Linked DNA regions of Homo sapiens: region 1 is linked to region 2. Evidence: fine-mapped expression QTL. Tissue or cell type: whole blood. Region 2 holds a variant in brackets; the other region holds the start of a gene. All regions are shown on one strand. Distances are from middle to middle.

What was found. PIP is the estimated chance that this variant, and not a neighbour inherited with it, causes the effect.
Region 1: it holds the start of TRAM1, and the variant in region 2 is fine-mapped to the expression of TRAM1 in whole blood (TOPMed, PIP above 0.99).

What each region holds. Positions count from the first base shown.
Region 1 is chr8:70,603,697-70,611,886 of GRCh38, reverse strand. TRAM1 (translocation associated membrane protein 1) reads left to right here and starts at 3,471. Exons shown (of 11, transcript NM_014294.6): 1 at 3,471-3,810. The coding sequence starts at 3,688. LACTB2-AS1 (LACTB2 antisense RNA 1) reads right to left here and starts at 3,310. Exons shown (of 4, transcript NR_038881.1): 1 at 3,054-3,310. LOC124902090 (small nucleolar RNA U13) reads right to left here and starts at 7,355; the gene lies at 7,250-7,355. RefSeq lists silencers at 3,305-3,474, 3,555-3,604, 3,665-3,724, 3,775-3,954, 3,975-4,424.
Region 2 is chr8:70,552,347-70,560,514 of GRCh38, reverse strand. No RefSeq gene overlaps it. Among named protein-coding and RNA genes, the nearest start is that of TRAM1, 52 kb to the left of the region's middle. The variant A/G (reference allele first, on the strand shown) is at 3,865.

The sequences.
Region 1 (8,190 bases), 51 kb before region 2:
TAAGAGCTAAAACCATAAAACTCTTAGAAGAAAACACAGGAGTAAATCTTTGGAATCTTGGGTTAGGCACTGATTTCTTATATAGGACAACAATAGCAAGTGATTAAAGAGAAAACAGGTAAGTTGGACTTTGCTGAATTAAAAACTTTTGTGCTTCAAAGAAAACCATCAAGAAAGTAAAAAGACAGACTGAAAGAAAATATTTTCAAATCATATATCTGCTAAGATCTAGAATCTATCTTTTATTTTTTAAAATAAATTACAGAACAACATGGACATATAGAATAGATATTTTTAAACCCTTACAACTCAATAAACTTTAAAAAATTAATCCAACTTAGAAATGATAAAGGATTTGAATAGACATTTCTACAAAAAAAGATATACAGATGGCTTCTGAGCACCTGATAAGGCTAGTAGTCAATATCATTAGTGCTCAGGGAAATGCAAAGCAAAATCACAATGAGATATTACTTCACACCCACTAGGACAGATAAGATTAAAAGACAGAAAATAAAAGTATTGGCAAGGATGGGAAGAAATTGGAACCTCTACACATTGCTAATAGGATGGGAAATAGTGCATTCACTTTGGAAATTAGTGTGAGAGTTCCTCAAAACGTCAAACATAAAGTTGCCTTATGATCAGCAATTCCACTGCTAGGTATATACCCAAAGGAATTGAGTTCAAACAAAAACTTGTACACAAATGTTCATCAACTGATGAATAAGATGTGCTATAGCCATACAATGGAATATTATTTGGCCATAAAAAGGAGTGAAGTACTGATACATGTTACAACATCGATGAACCTTGGAAACATTATCTTCAGTGAAAGAAGTCAGTCACAAAAGATCATGATTCTATTTACATGTAATGTCCAAGCTGGCCATGGTGGTTCACACCTGTAATCCCAGCACTTTGGGAGGTGGGAGAATTTCTTGAGGCCAGGAGTCCAAGGTTGCAGTGAGCTATGATCATGCCACTGTACACCAGCCTAGGCAACAGAGCAAGACCCCATCTCAAAAAAAGAAAGAAAAGAAACAAAGAAAGAACAAAAAGAAATGTCCACAATAAGCAAATATAGAGAGGTAGAAAATAGGTCAGTTGTTGCCAAGGGCTGCCAAGACTATGAGGGGAAATGGAGAGTTACTGGTAATGTGTATAAGGTTTCTTTTAGAGATTACAAGAATGTTCTAAAGTTATATTATGGTGATTGTTGCACAACTTTGCAAACATACTAAAAACCACAGAATTGAATATCTCAAATAGCTGAACTATATGACATAAATTATACTGCAATAAAACTATTTCAAAAATGCAATTGAATCATAAAAGATAAATTGCTTAGGTCACAGAATTCAGTGAAGCTTTCGAAGAGGTCATGTGTAAATGAGACATGAAGGAACAGCAGGAGCCTGCTGTGTCTATGAAAGGACAGGAGAAAACATTCCAGACAGAGACAGCAGTACACGCAAAGGCAGGGGAGAGCATGGGAAGAGAGCATGTCATGGCATGTACAGTCGTCCCTCAGTCTTCACAGGGGACTGGTTCCAGGGCCCCCGCGGATACCGAAATCCACCCATGCTCAGGTGCCTTATATAAGATGATGCAATATTCTGGTAAAGAATATCCTAAATCCTCCCACAGACCTCCAATCATTTCTAGATTACTTATAATAACACAACATAACTGCTAAATAAATAGTTGGCTGTACTATATTATTTAGGGAATAATCATGGGGGGGTAGTCTGTAGATGTTCAGTACAAATGCAGTTTTTTTCTTGAATATCTTTTACTCCAGGTTGGTTGAATCCACAGTGTATGCGGCACCCACAGATATGGAGAGGCAACTGTATAGTGTGTGTAGTCAATAATGCTGGTACAGAGATTATGGCCTGTAGATGCAGGGCTCCAGTCTGTTGGGGTAGGCAAGGACCAAATCAGAAAGGGCTATTTCATCATGCTAGCTTTCCATGAAGGGAAAGGGAACCCGCTGAAAAACTTTCTGCCAGTAGAAGCATCATTCTAGTATAAACGTTGAAAGGTGATCTGAAGGGAAATGAAACTAGTGATTGCCCAGAAGGAGGAAAAGAATAATCCCTGACTAAATTTATAAAGCCCTTACTCCCCGCTAAGCAGTTTCCTTCAATCATCTCATTTAATCACTAAAATGAGCAATAGTTATCCCCACTTTATAGATGATATCCACAGGGCTTGCTCCCTCACCTCCTGCAGGTCTTCAGGCAAGTATAAGTGCCTCGCACTTTCCTATTCCCCTTGCTTTATTTTTCTCCTGGTTGCTCAACTCAATTTAACATCTGTTTCGCTTTTGAAATCTTGTTTAAAGATTCTCTCCCACACTAGAATGATAAGTCCCTAGGAATAATTTAATTTGTATTTCAGTTCTGTATCCCCAGTGCCCAGGACACAGTCAACCCTCAGTAAGTACATAAATGAATACATTTTTAAAAATGAGGAAATCGGGTCCCATAGAGATTAAGTAACTTGTCCTTGATCGTACAAGTAATAAGTGGCAGAATTCTGATTTAACAACCCACATTCTTAAACCACTAAGTGGTTACACCAGAGTTGTAATATTGTAGGCAAGAGGCAAGTACCCTCGGACTGCGGTAGTGGGGAAGCGGGGTGATAGGTCTGCCTCGAATTGGTGATGACTGGATGTGGAAGGGCGCTGAAAGGGCTCAATCTAGCATGACTTTGGTTTCTACATTTGGCTTATGGGTAAACAGGAGAGCAATTCTTCAGGAAAAAGAATACAAAGGACTCCAGGTTTGGGCAAAACGATAAGAGGAGGACGTGTCTTAATCCACGATCCTTTTTAACTCTTTTACTATTTCCCTTAGATTACTAAAACATGTTGTTAATTTGAATATATGTGAAGCCAGTAAACCCAAACTGATCCCTTCGTCTTCAGTCTGAGGCCAGTGGGGGATAGGGGTGGGGATGGGGACGGGGATGGGGGTGGGGACGGAGAGGCAGACCAGAATAGGGTCAGCTCTTTTTTTTTTTTTAAGTTAGTCCAAACTTACCAAGAGTAGAAATAAGTCCCCAGCAGTGCTTAACTCTGAGGTAATTTTTAAGGCAGATGCTAAAACTGGAGAATACACCGTACCCTTGTGGAGTCAGGTAGTATTCGTAGTTTTAGATTATCCTGACGGTGTTAGTCACTTGTAGAAGTGACAATGTGCAACAGGCCACTGACACCCAATCCCTGGATGGCCAGGAGGGCAGGAGGGCACCCGGCCGCGGCCTCAGGCTGCTGAGCAGGCGCAGGAAGCTCGCGCCTCAAACGACTCCCAAACCCGGGCCCGGCGCGAAGCAGGGAAGCGCCGCTCACATTCCTGCACGCTCGCCCGGCCGCGGGCCAGCGGCCTCCGGTCCCCAGGTGGCGCTGTGGGCTCGCGGAGGCGGCCGCGGCACCAGGGAGCGTCGTCTCCCTGGTGCGCATGCTCGCCCCCGCTGCGGGCTAGCTGTTGTGTTTTTTTTTTTCCCCCGGGCGGCCCGGCGGCTGCGTACTGGCTGTGGGATGGGAAGTGAAGCCCCAGCGAGCGGCTGCAGCGGGGCCGTGAGGAGCAGCCAGCGGGAGGCGGCGGCGAGTCGGTGAGCAGCTGGGAAGAGCAGAACCGGGGCGGAGCACCTGCAGGCGCGGGCGGCGGCCCCACCATGGCGATTCGCAAGAAAAGCACCAAGAGCCCCCCAGTGCTGAGCCACGAATTCGTCCTGCAGAATCACGCGGACATCGTCTCCTGTGTGGCGATGGTCTTCCTGCTGGGGCTCATGTTTGAGGTGAGCCCGCCCCGAGTCCCAACCGCCTGCCCCGCCACCTCCAGCCCGGGCCCGGGCTCCAGATGCCAGCCCCGGCTTCTCCGCCCAGGACGCGGGGGGCTCGGGCCCGGGGTGGGTGCAGACCCCCAGTCCCTGAGGTGCAGGCCTTCCCTGCCCTGCCCCACGTCGGCGGCAGCTCCCCGGCGGCCGGCCCGGAGATGCAAAGTCCCGGTGGGCCTCATCGCGGCCCGCAGGGGGTGGGGACCGCCGCGTCGCCCCCTTCCTGACCCGCCGCCGCCCCCTCCCGCAGGCTGCGCGGCGCAGTTCCTGGTTCCCGCGAAGGGTTACGTGGCAGCCGGCGAGGGGCCTGCGGGCGGGGGCGGCCCCTGCGCTGCCGAGCTGGCTCGGGGCGGGTGGGCGGACTTGGGGGGACTGCCAGCCTCGGCCGCGGTGAGCGTCAGCCCCGCGAGGGCCGGGGAAGGCCGAGGCCCGGCCCCCGGGTCTGAGGAGTGCCGGCCTGGAGACCACAGGCCCCGAGTGACAGGGGAGCCCCCGGTAGCTCCGAGATTGGGGTGAGCGAGAAACCGGAGTCAGGCATCTGCTTTCGACTTGAAGGGCGGTGGCCGCCGGGCACCGGCGCAGTGGAGGCGCGCCAGATTGTTTTCATTTTTGTCTTTTAAACTGATATTATTACCAGTTAACGAACTTTTTGCCCTGACGCTTTAAAGAAACAAGGTCTGATGGATAAATCGAGGTTCTGAACAGCGGTGCCAAGGAATCGAGTAATTTTGTTTCTTGAAGTAGGAGAGGATGGGAATGTCAGGAGTGTGTAAATTCTCTTCCCACGTATCTAGTATTTTGATGACTTATTTAACAGCTGTTGAATGTGGATGATAAACTTTGCAAGGTGAACGAGTAACATCCTACGTTTTTCCCCTCGCTCCCCAATACACACGCTCATTCCTTTGCTTTTTTCCCTTTTTAATTTTTCTCTGGAGCCTTTATGTCTCAGTAAATATACAAATTATTTTGCTCCTGCCTTGTTTTGTCTCCTCTCTCCTGCATGTAACAAGTGAGAGTAGAGATTTTGGAGTATTTTTACGAGTCTGTATTTCCAGAGTCTAGGATAGTGCCTGGGACATAGGAGTGCTTAAAAAAAGATGAGCGACGTTAAGAATCCTTGAGAAAACCTAATGGAATGATATTACCAGTGACCAAAAGGTGAATACATTTTCTTTTTAATGGAGCATATTTGTTTTTTTTTTTAATTTTAAAATTAAATAATATTTTAACCTTATTTTCGCCTCTCATCAAATGGGCTTTTCTGGATCTAGATACAGATATTATTTACTCCTGATTGTGTCATGCATGTTTGAAACCACTGCTAAGGAGGTAGCAGGTATAGTTAAAGGGTAGGTAGAAGGAAACTAACATTCTCAAGCTTTAAGTCTGGGCTGTGCCACCTACCTACTGGGTGACCCAAGTCTGAGCCTCAATTTTTCTGCTCTTTATCAGGAAATAATATCACCTGTACTGTTCTCCTCACAGCCATTTTTTGCAAGTATCAGATGATATGGTGTGAAGGTAAATACAGTGCTAGGCCTGGTGCTCTGGCTTATGCCTGTAAACATCCCAACACTTTGGGAGGCCAAGGCAGGAGAATCACTGGAGCCCAGGAGTTCGAGACCAGCCTAGGCAACATAGGGAGACCCTGTCTCTACAAATGATTTTTTAAAAATTAGCCAGGAGTGATAGATAGCACGCACCTGTGGTCTCAGCTGGGCGGCTGAGGTGGGATAATTACTTGAGCCCAGGAGGTGGAGGCTGCGGTGAGCCAAGGTTTCACCACTGCACTCCAGCCTGAAGGACAGAGCAAGAAGACCCTGTCTCAAAAAAAACCCAATGTTAAACATTTGTATTCACTTTCTGAATTTGATACTTGCATGTACTTTCTGCTTTGACCTTAAAGTAGTACTTTAATATATGTAGTATATTCAATTTTCTGTAACTTGTCATAAACCATCTCCACATGGTAAGAATTCCTGACTTTAAAAACATATTTTAGGGGTACTGTGACCTGCAAGGTATATTTGCAGTGCTTTGAATGAAATGAAATATAAATCAGAAATTCTGACACATAGTATAACTTTGATTTTATATAAACTATTTTACATTCTCTTACTATATTTCTAGGGAAGTCCACCACCTATACCTTGCCTCACATGTTAGTGATTTTTTTAAACAGTGGATTTTCACCTTTATATAAATTTATAAAATTTGAAAATCTAAATAGACAAAAATACTAAATAGAGGTTTTTAAGTCAATTCAAAAGTGAGTGTTAAAGTGATACACAAAAGTGAAGTTTGTGCGAGTTCTTCCTTTTTCTTACCATATATTAAGGTGTTAGGATTTCAAAGCATGTTATCTATATATAGGACTTTGTAGACTAGGTTAGTTTTGCTATTCGACTTTTAAAACAATTGCTGCTGAATCTCAAAGTTAACATAATTATAGAATTACAGTACTTGTGCTAGAATAATAGAGAAATTGATTTTTTTTTGCAGAACTGTTAAGCCTGTTGTGCAGATACATTGAGGAAATGTCAGAGGATTTATGGTGACATTGACAAAGAAATTCAGAAAGAAAGAAATACTGTATTACTAGCCAAAATGAAGAAGCAATGGAGATACACTGTAAAAGCATGGATTCTGGAGCTGAAGGGATTCATGTTCAAGTTAGGGCTCTGCAGCTTGCTAACTGGGTGACCTAGGGCAGCTCAGAACTGAAGTTTCCTCATCTGTAAAATGGGGCTTATTGGGTTACTCTGACAAATTAACCAATTTGTATTATGCCTAGTTCAATACTTGACTTCCAAAAGGTGTGCAATAAGTGGTAGCTATTATTATTCTTTAAAAACTCACCAAAATTGGGAAATAGAAAGCATTTTTATGTGAGAGAAGGGCCTGGAATCTCTTTAGTTAGCATCTAAAGAGATTATACATACTGAAAAGGCTAACAAAGTAGTCTGTTTGGCAGTAATGTAAGAGTTTAATTTCCAGGGAACTTCACATTAATCAAAAATTGCTTGTAAATTTTGGAATCATAGTTTTATTACAGTAAATATCTGTCCACATAATTCAAATCATAGTATACAATGAATGGCTTCATATTTGAGTTAGGAAAAATTGAATGGTCAAAAAATGTTAGGGATGCTTGGGAAGCTTTCTGAAAGTGAGTATGTGGAGGAGGGGTGAAGAATTAGGGGTTCACAAGAGAAGTATTTCTTTTAAGGAGTGTATAAAGGAAAGATATTCAAAAGGAAATATATTCAAAAGGAAAGATATTCAAAATCTGCAAGTTCTTTATGCCATACAGATTTTGGGGACGTTTACAATTTCAACAATCTTGAAACAGTTTTCAAGGTTTGGGTTTTTTTTTTCTTTCCTTTTTTTCTTTCTTTTTATGACAGGTAAGGTGCTCAGGTCAGAACAAAGTTTGAGGGAGAGACACATCTCACATATAAGCGTGAAACCCCAATCATCACACTTGTGAACTACAAAAGGGTCTCTCTTTTTTTTGAGACAGGGTCTTGCTATGTTGCCTTGGCTGGAACTTGACCTCCTGGGCTCAAGTGATCCTCCCCTCTCGCCACCTGAGTGGCTGGGACTACAGGCACGTGCCACTGAGCCCCACTGGAAGTGGAATTTGATATTCAGAATTGTCTTTACTTTTCAAGGATCCAGTCCATGTAGTGACTGGTCACATCTTCCTCTAAAACAAGTGCAAAGTAGTTAACATCTCTATATAACAAGAAAGATACCAAGCCCCAACCGGTGACATTTAATTAAAGAAATGTTGTATTTATGACATTGCATACAGCATAGAATTAGGTAATTCATTACAGTTTCTGGTAACCTATTTAAGATGCATCTGAATAAGTCTCTTTTTTCATTTTTCCATTTTTGTAAATGGAGAGCAGCTCTGTAAATGTTCAAACTGTCATAAACTCAGGTATTTTTACTTTCGAGTGCATTATATATTTCTGTAGCCTATTTATATTCTAAACTAACTTATCTTACTACTAATTAATTGTGGTGTGAGTTTAACTGCAGCAATGCTAGCAGGGTGTGAGGCTTAGGAGGCCTGGAAATGGCTAGGAGCAAGACTGCTAGCTTAAACTTGAAACTTTTTGGAGTGTGTAGTTTACATTTTTCCTCTTCTTCTTCTATTTAAACTCACATGCTAAACCAGCTGGAGGTCAAATTTTAATTTTATTTGGAAGCCTGGCTAAAAGGATAATCTAATTTTTGCTGCTTTTAGAATTTGATGCTAAATTTATCTTTGAAGAATCTCATTTGTTGTTTGTAAAGGACTCTTTTTGAGATGGAGCCTCACTCTGT
Region 2 (8,168 bases):
CTTCTAGGTGCTTTAGAAAAGCCCTGGTTGCACAGCCCAATCCCCTAGAATAAAATGAGAGGCAAAAGGACAAACTCATAATAACAGTGCTTTGTTAATCTGGTTACTGAACACTTTTAAAAACTATTAGCCATTTACAGCAGGCAACACACCTCCACGCCTCAGTTTCATATTGTGCCAATAGCAGAGAACCCAGTATTTACAAAGACAAATCAGGTCTGTGTTTATCTAAGCATGATTTGCTTTATAAAAAAATCGTACTAGGTATCTAAATGTTGCACATTGATGAGTTTTAATTCAAGCTGATTTATTCAATTAATCTAGATTATCTTTAGTGAAAAGATTATTATTATTATTATTATTTTTTTTTTTTTTTTTTTTTGAGACGGAGTCTCGCTTTGTCGCCCAGGCCGGACTGCGGACTGCAGTGGCTCAATCTCGGCTCACTGCAAGCTCTGCTTCCCGGGTTCACGCCATTCTCCTGCCTCAGCCTCCCGAGTAGCTGGGACTACAGGCGCCCGCCACCGCGCCCGGCTAATTTTTTGTATTTTTAGTAGACACGGGGTTTCACCTTGTTAGCCAGGATGGTCTCGATCTCCTGACCTCATGATCCACCCGCCTCGGCCTCCCAAAGTGCTGGGATTACAGGCGTGAGCCACCGCGCCCGGCCAAAAGATTATTAATGTAGTTGTTCAAGGCTGAAATCAAACATTTTGGGTATCCTGAAAACAAGCAAATAAAAAATTTAAGAAGCTTAGGTCCATGTTATACTCTCTTTTGTGACTATTAGTAACTTAACTTTGACCTAATTTAAGTTTACTGAAGAAAACAGTCATATTTTGAAGATCCAAACTTCAATCAACTCAAGTGATAAATAGCCTTATTGATTTCAGTTATTATGAATAGTTACACAGTGGTAAGACTAGCTAACCAGAGTTCAAATCGTGACTCCTCCACTGATCAGCTCTGTGTGATTAAATGTCTGTACCACAGTTTTCTGTGGTAATAACACCTACTCCACAAGATATGAACATGAACTGTGCATAGCCCTATGCCTGATGTTTATTAAATGTTAGTTGCTAGCTCATAAGGTTGTGACAAACACAGCAGTAATTGTCACTGCTGTTACCACTTTTCTGTTTTATGTTGAAGTTTCACAACACTGTTCAGCATTCATGCCATGCAATGCAAGCACAGTGTTCCACGACTCTACTCTGGAGCAGATGGGCCAATAAAGTTGCAAGAAATGTTCAAGCCAACATTACAGCCAGCAAAGTTACACTGAATCATTGGATGACTGTGCAGGCATGCTTCACCAACACAAACATTCATAAATCAAACATCCAAGTCTGTGCTGAATCATTTATACCTATGTGATATAATAATTATAAAAGCGAGTTGTAGGTATGGTTTCTAAGGAATGACTTTTTAAAGTCAGATATCTATGGTTTATGGGGCCATATTTCCATTTAGCTGATGTATATAACTTCTAGAGAATTTTTGGCTGCTTGGAGTTGCCTAACCTTCCAGTGTAAAGAATCAAACTTCATTAGGTAAATGAGAACGTTACAACACAATGTTTATCATGAAGTTTGAACTGATATCATAAAATGTCCTAGAATTCACATTTCTCCAAGTGGGCTGGAAGGCCTGGATGTGACAGTACATGGGGCATCCACATGTAAGTGTGGGTCATGTGTGAAAGAGTGAAATCTGAAGACTAAGGTACATACTCTGTTGTGTCCTTGCTGATTGCCTTCTGAACTAATCCTTTTCTCTTCTTATATCAAATATAAGAAAATACGGCCAGGCACGGTGGCTCACGCCTGTAATCCCAGCACTTTGGGAGGCCGAGGCAGGTGGATCACCTGGGGTTGGGAGTTTGAGACCAGCCTGACCAACATGGAGAAACCCCGTATCTACCAAAAATAAAAAATTAGCCGGGCTTGGTGGCGCATGCCTATAATCCCAGCTACTCAGGAGACTGAGGCAGGAGAATCGCTTGAATCCGGGAGGTAGAGGTTGTGGTGAGCCAAGATTGTGCCATTGCACTCCAGCCTGGGCAACAAGAGCGAAACTCCATCTCAACAACAAAAAAAAGAAAACACAGTAAAGTTACTTATGAGAACAATTATAATTTACCTAGCTCTGTCGCTCAGGCTGGAGTGCAGTGGCGCCATCTCAGCACACTGCAACCACCACCTCCTGGGTTCAAGCAACCCTTTCACATCGGCCTCCAGAGTAGCTGGGACTACAGGTGCACACCATTACGCCCAGCTAATTTTTGTATTTTTTATAAAGATGGGGGTTTCACCACGTTGCCCAGGCTGGTCTCAAACTCCTGCGCTCAAGCAATCCACCTGCCTCAGCCTCCCAAAGTGCTGGAATTACAGGTGTGAGTCACAGCACTTGGCCTATAATTTAATTATCAATGCAATTTAATCAACCTCATCTAAGTCACTAGTGACCTCAGGATCACCTATAGTGGTCCTTTTCCATTTCAAAGGAATGACAACATACAAACAATGTGACACCGGTTATTTGTCACTTAGGTCTGAAGGGAAAATATCTATACTGTATATACTAAGTAAATGAAAAATTAAGTATGGTTTTTAAGAAGTAAATTCAATTCTGTAGAATTAAGGCCTTGAAGACTACCAGGAATATGTTACAATGATTGGTGGTTGTATCCATTTGTTTTGCATTGCTATAAAGGAACCCCTGGGGCTAGGTAATTTTTAAAGATAACAGGTTTATTGGCTAATGGTTCTGCAGGCTGTACAAGAAACATAGCATCATCATCTGCTCAGCTTCTCATAAGGCCTCAGGAAGCTTTTACTCCTGGTGGAAGGTGAAGGGGAAGTAGATGTGTCACATGGTTAGAAGGGGAACAAGAGAAAGAGGAGGAAAGTTCCAGTCTCTATAACAACCACATCTCACACAAACTCATTACTTTGGGGAGGGCACAAAGTCATTCACAAGGGATCCACCCCCATGACTCAAACACCTCCCAGTAGGCCCCACCTTCAACATTGGAGATCACATTTCAACATAAGATTTGGAGGGGACAAATACCGAAACTATATCAGTGGCTTACCTACACCCTAATACATGTAGGAAGCTTTAAAAAATTCAAAAGAGATGTGAGGCTGGGTTCAGCTTCATCTTCAAAGAGAAATTCCATAACTGCAGAATCATCAATCATTCTCTGGGAACAGAAAGCCCTAGTTGAAACCTAGAAGTCATTTCTTTGTTGATATGGTGAGTCAACTCTGTCTCAGTGCAGAAATACTGGTTCGAAGGAATGAGATGGAGAAGGACAGATAATTGTTAGCAAAAAGAAATCTCTTTCTGAAGAGATAATACTCTGCAGTGATTTTCATTGAAATTTACAAAACATCTCTAAATATTGGCCTTTATACAGTAAGCTCAGGCTTATTCTGCTATTATATAGCAACTTAATTTTGCATGACCTGTGGTGGCGGGGTTTTTTTTTAATTTGTTTTTATGAAGGATCAAACAGAATAAGGAATTTTTGTTTGTTTGTTTGTTTTGAGACCAGGTCTCGCTCTGTTTCCCAGGCTGGAGTGCAGTGGTGTGATCACAGCTCACTGCAGTCTCAACCTCCTGGGCATAGGTGATCCTCTTGGCTCAGCCTTCCAAGTAGCTGTGACCACAGGTGCACACCACCACACCTGGCTGATTTTTTAACTATCTGTAGAGATATAAATAATTTGCAGATGTCCCTATGTTGCCCAAGCTAGTCTCGAACTTCTGGACTCAAGTGATCCTCCTGCCTCTGCCTCCCAAAGTGCTGGGATTACAGATTTGAGCCCCTGCGCCAGGCCAGAATAAAGAACTTTA[A/G]AAAGCAATGCCATCTTGTAACTTCAGGTTTAAGTAATCACTGCTCTCCTTGTTTTACTGTATTTTGATGAGTATCAACATTCCGATTACAGTCCGGCATCTCTTAATAGGCAATGCCAATCATACCCCATTATATATTGCTGTGGAGTAAATACTCAGTAGGGGCTACTGCAATCACCAGCCTAATTTTCCACTCACACTCCATTCATGTCAGCACTTTAGTCTCCAAAGGTAAGAGCAGCTGTATTCGTTATACTCATCAACCCAGCTGCTCTTATTTGTTCCTTTTCTTTTTTTTTCTAATGTCCCCACTTCTCTACTAAAAGAAACACTTTTGCCCTGTGATTTTTTTTTTCAGTTGGTTACTTCAGCTGATCTTTATGTCAGCTGATCCTTATGCAGTATTTGCCCTTCCATCTAAAATTGTGTTCTTACATACCACAATTTCCAGTTCCAAAGAGGAGACCCCCACACTGCTATGGTTTGCTCTGACGGAATGGCCAAAGTGGGGGAACAAGTTAAAAGTGGGTCCAGAACTTTGCTCATTTATATGAAAGTTTGGTCTTAAAAGTATTGGATCAATAAAAGTATTAGAAATTAATTTCTTCTTGATATTTTTAATTGCCTAAAAAAACAGAAGTTATCAGTTGCATGGGATGTTTTGTACTTAGTGATTCTCATTTCAGAGAAGCTTAGTTTTAATGAGTTCCTATCCGGAAATGCTCTGACTCCCCTTCAGTTCTGCAAATGTCTGTTCCTGAGAGGATGGTTCACATTAATTACAGTGTCTCTTCATCTTCCCCTGCATGCAGCAGGGTTCAGCACCTTGCTTTTGAAATGAACGAAATGGGGAAAGGATGCTTGCCTTTCATACATCCTAGTATTATATATAGCACAGGACCTCTCCTACCTCAGAGTCCCCACAATAACCTCCCACAGCCCAGTCTTTATCTTCCACAATCTTATTTATTTTGAGGCAGGATCTCACTCTGTCCCCCAGGCGGGGGTGCAGTGGTATGATCAAGGCTTACTGCAACCTCCACCTCCCAGGTTCAAGCGATCCTCCCACCTCAGCCTCCTGAGGAGCTGGACCTACAGGCGCACATCACTACGCCTGGCTATAAATGGTGCATTCTTGCTGTGACAGCAAGGACATGGCAGAAAGGACAAGGCAGCTCTCTGGACCTCTTTTATAAAAACACTAATCCCAATCATGAGATCAGAGCCTTCATGACCTAATCACCTCTCAAAGGTCCCACTCCTAACACCATCATCACCTCGTGGGGGTAGGATTTCAACATATATATTTGGGGGGCATGGTGATATAAACATTCAGACCATTGCTACAAGGATACTGTATTTTCTTTTTTCTAAATGTGCTCTCTTCATACTTTAGCATTTCTGAAATAAAAATGGGTCTTTCAGTAGCAAATTTCTCTTAGTGGCCTACAGCATAAAGACTTTTTTTTTTAACCTGATTGTTAGGGTTTAAATGTTTGTCTCTTCCTAAACTCATGTTGGAATTTAATTTCCTTTGTAATAGTATTTAGAGGTGGGATCTTTAAGAGGTGATTAGGCCATGAAGACTCTGCCCATATAAATAGATTAATGTTAATATGGGAGTGGGTTTCTGATGAAAGGACAAGTTAGGTCAGGCATGGTGGCTCATGCCTGTAATCCCAGCACTTTGGGAGGCCAAGGTGGGAGGACTGCTTGAGCCCCAGAGTTCAAGACTAGCCTGGGCAATATGGTGAAACCCCACCTCTACAACAGATTAAAAACATTAGTAGGGCATGGTGGCACATGCTTGTGGTCCCAGCTACTCAGGAGGCTGAGGCAGGAGGATGACTTGAGCCCAGGAAGTTGAGGCTTCGGTGAGCCATGGTTGTGCCACTGCACTCCAGCCTGGGTGACAAAGTGAGACCCTGTCTCAAAATAAATAAATAAACAAATAAATAAATAAATAAATAAAAAGACAAGTTAAACACCTCTATTTTTCTCTCCCTCTCTCTGTCTCTCTCTCTCTCTCCCTCTCTTTGCCTTTATGCCATGGAGTTATACAGCAAGAATGCCCCTGCCAGATGCTGGACCTTCAGTTTTGGACTTCCTAGCCTCCAGAACCATAAGCCAATACATTTCTGTCTATTATAAATCATCCAGCCTGTGGTATTCTGTTATAGCTTCACAAAGTAGACTAAGACACTGACGAATTCTTAGATTGCATGAAATTCAGTATATATTGCTAATATTTATCGATGGATAAGTCCCAGTTGGTATTTTATGTGCTTTACCCCCATCATTTATAAACTCCACAAGGATACCTTGAATAGTTGGGGATCATCCTATTAACACTGTTTTATAGAAATTGAATCTCAGAGGGGTCAAGTGACTTAGTAAGTGGCAAAGCCAGGTTTTGCACATGTCTGTGGTGGAGCCTCTGTTCTTCACTGTGTCCTACCACACAGTCTGGCAAAACAAGGACAAGACTGCTTAGAAGATGTACAAAGTCCTGGCGTGGTGGCTCACACCTGTAATCCCAGCACTTTAGGAGGCCGAAGTGGGTGGATCACCTGAGGTCAGGAGTTCAAGACCAGCCTGGCCAACATGGTGAAACCCTGTCTCTACTAAAAATGCAAAAATTAGCCAGGCATGGTAGTGGGTGCCTGTAATCCCAGCTACTCAGGAGGCTGAGACAGGAGAATCACTTGATCCTGGGTGGTGGAACTTGCAGTGAGCCAAGATTGAGCCACTGCACTCCAGCCTAGGTGACAAAGCGAGACTCCATCTCAAAAAAAAAAAAAAAAAAAAAAGAAGATGCACAAAGAGGTCGAACATGGTGGCTCACGCCTGTAATCCCAACATGGATAACCTGAGATGAGGAGTTTGAGACCAGCCTGGCCAACATGGCAAAACCCCGTCTCCACTAAAACTACAAAAATTAGCCGGGTGTGGTGGCAGGCGCCTATAATCTCAGCTACTTAGGAGGCTGAGGCAGGAGAAATGCTTGAACCCGGGAGGTGGAGGTTTTAGTGAGCTGGGATCACACCACTGCACTCCAGCCTGGGCAACAAGAGTGAGACTCTGTCTCAAATCATTAAAAAAAAAAATAGAAGTCACAGAAACTAAGCAAGAGGACTTCAGGGAATGAATGGTTGGCAGTGCCAAAAGTTTCAAAGAAGAAAAAATACAAAGCCTAAAAAAAGTTCATCAAATCTGTTTCCTAGAAAGCCATGGGTGCCCTCAGTGAAAAAGAGCAACAGGTGTCACCAAGGGGTTCCCTCTGCCTCACTTTCACGCATTTTTCTCATGCACCTAAGGTCAAGAGGATTGGGGGTTGGGGTGGATCTTTGTCTGGTCTGGTCCCCCGTGGGCAGCAGATGCTGGACTCCTCCGAGCACATGGGAAGAGACTGTGAGTGTTTTCCTGGCACTGACAAACACCAACTCTGGCCTGTAGAAGACCTGGATGGGAAAAGTGTGGGGAGGGTCGCTGGGGTACTGGGACATGCCCAGCACTTCCCTCACTGGGATGGGGAGGGACTGCTTCCTCCTCACTGGGAGCTGAGCCAGGACCTTTCAGGCATTGCTGCAGGCATGAGTTTTGAGGACAGAGTTTCACACAAATCTGCCACACAGGAGAGGGGGTGATGAATCCCCAATGGCTGGATGTGCTCATATAGGCCTACAGCTTGGGAATGCCCGCAACAGGGCACCTGAGAAAAGAGGACCCCAGACAGGGTGCCCTTTCCTCCTACTGCCTGGCAGGGCGGACCCATGAAGAGTGCAGCAGCTGCTGCATCTGGAGACTGCCACAGCCTGTGCCCCCGACCCAGGAGTTTTGATCATTTCACTGGTCATGCCTCAGTTACTAATATAAGTCAGTTCTTGCCATTGAAAGTGACTTTGTATGGCCTACAACTGTCCTTGCAAGCTATAGGGACCTGCCTGAGATTATATCCTCAGGAAGGAAAAGATGTAGCCCATAGAGTAGGTTGGGAGGGACAATGAAACTAAAGTGGCTTTGATCCAACCCTGTCAAACCCAATTCACTCAATACAAAGGTTACAAGCAAGAATTAGAAGAACAAAAAAGCAAAACAAAAGACGACGGCAAGTACTGTCACCAATACAGCTATGTAATGTCTTTATTCCAGACATTGTGCCAAGGCATGGAATATATAGGAATGAATAAGACAGGCACAATCCCTGCTCTCACGAGCTTAAAGTATGGCATAAAAGAAAAGTGACCATGTATAAAAATATTATGACAACTTGTAAGTGCCATCACAGGAAAAGGCAGAGCTGT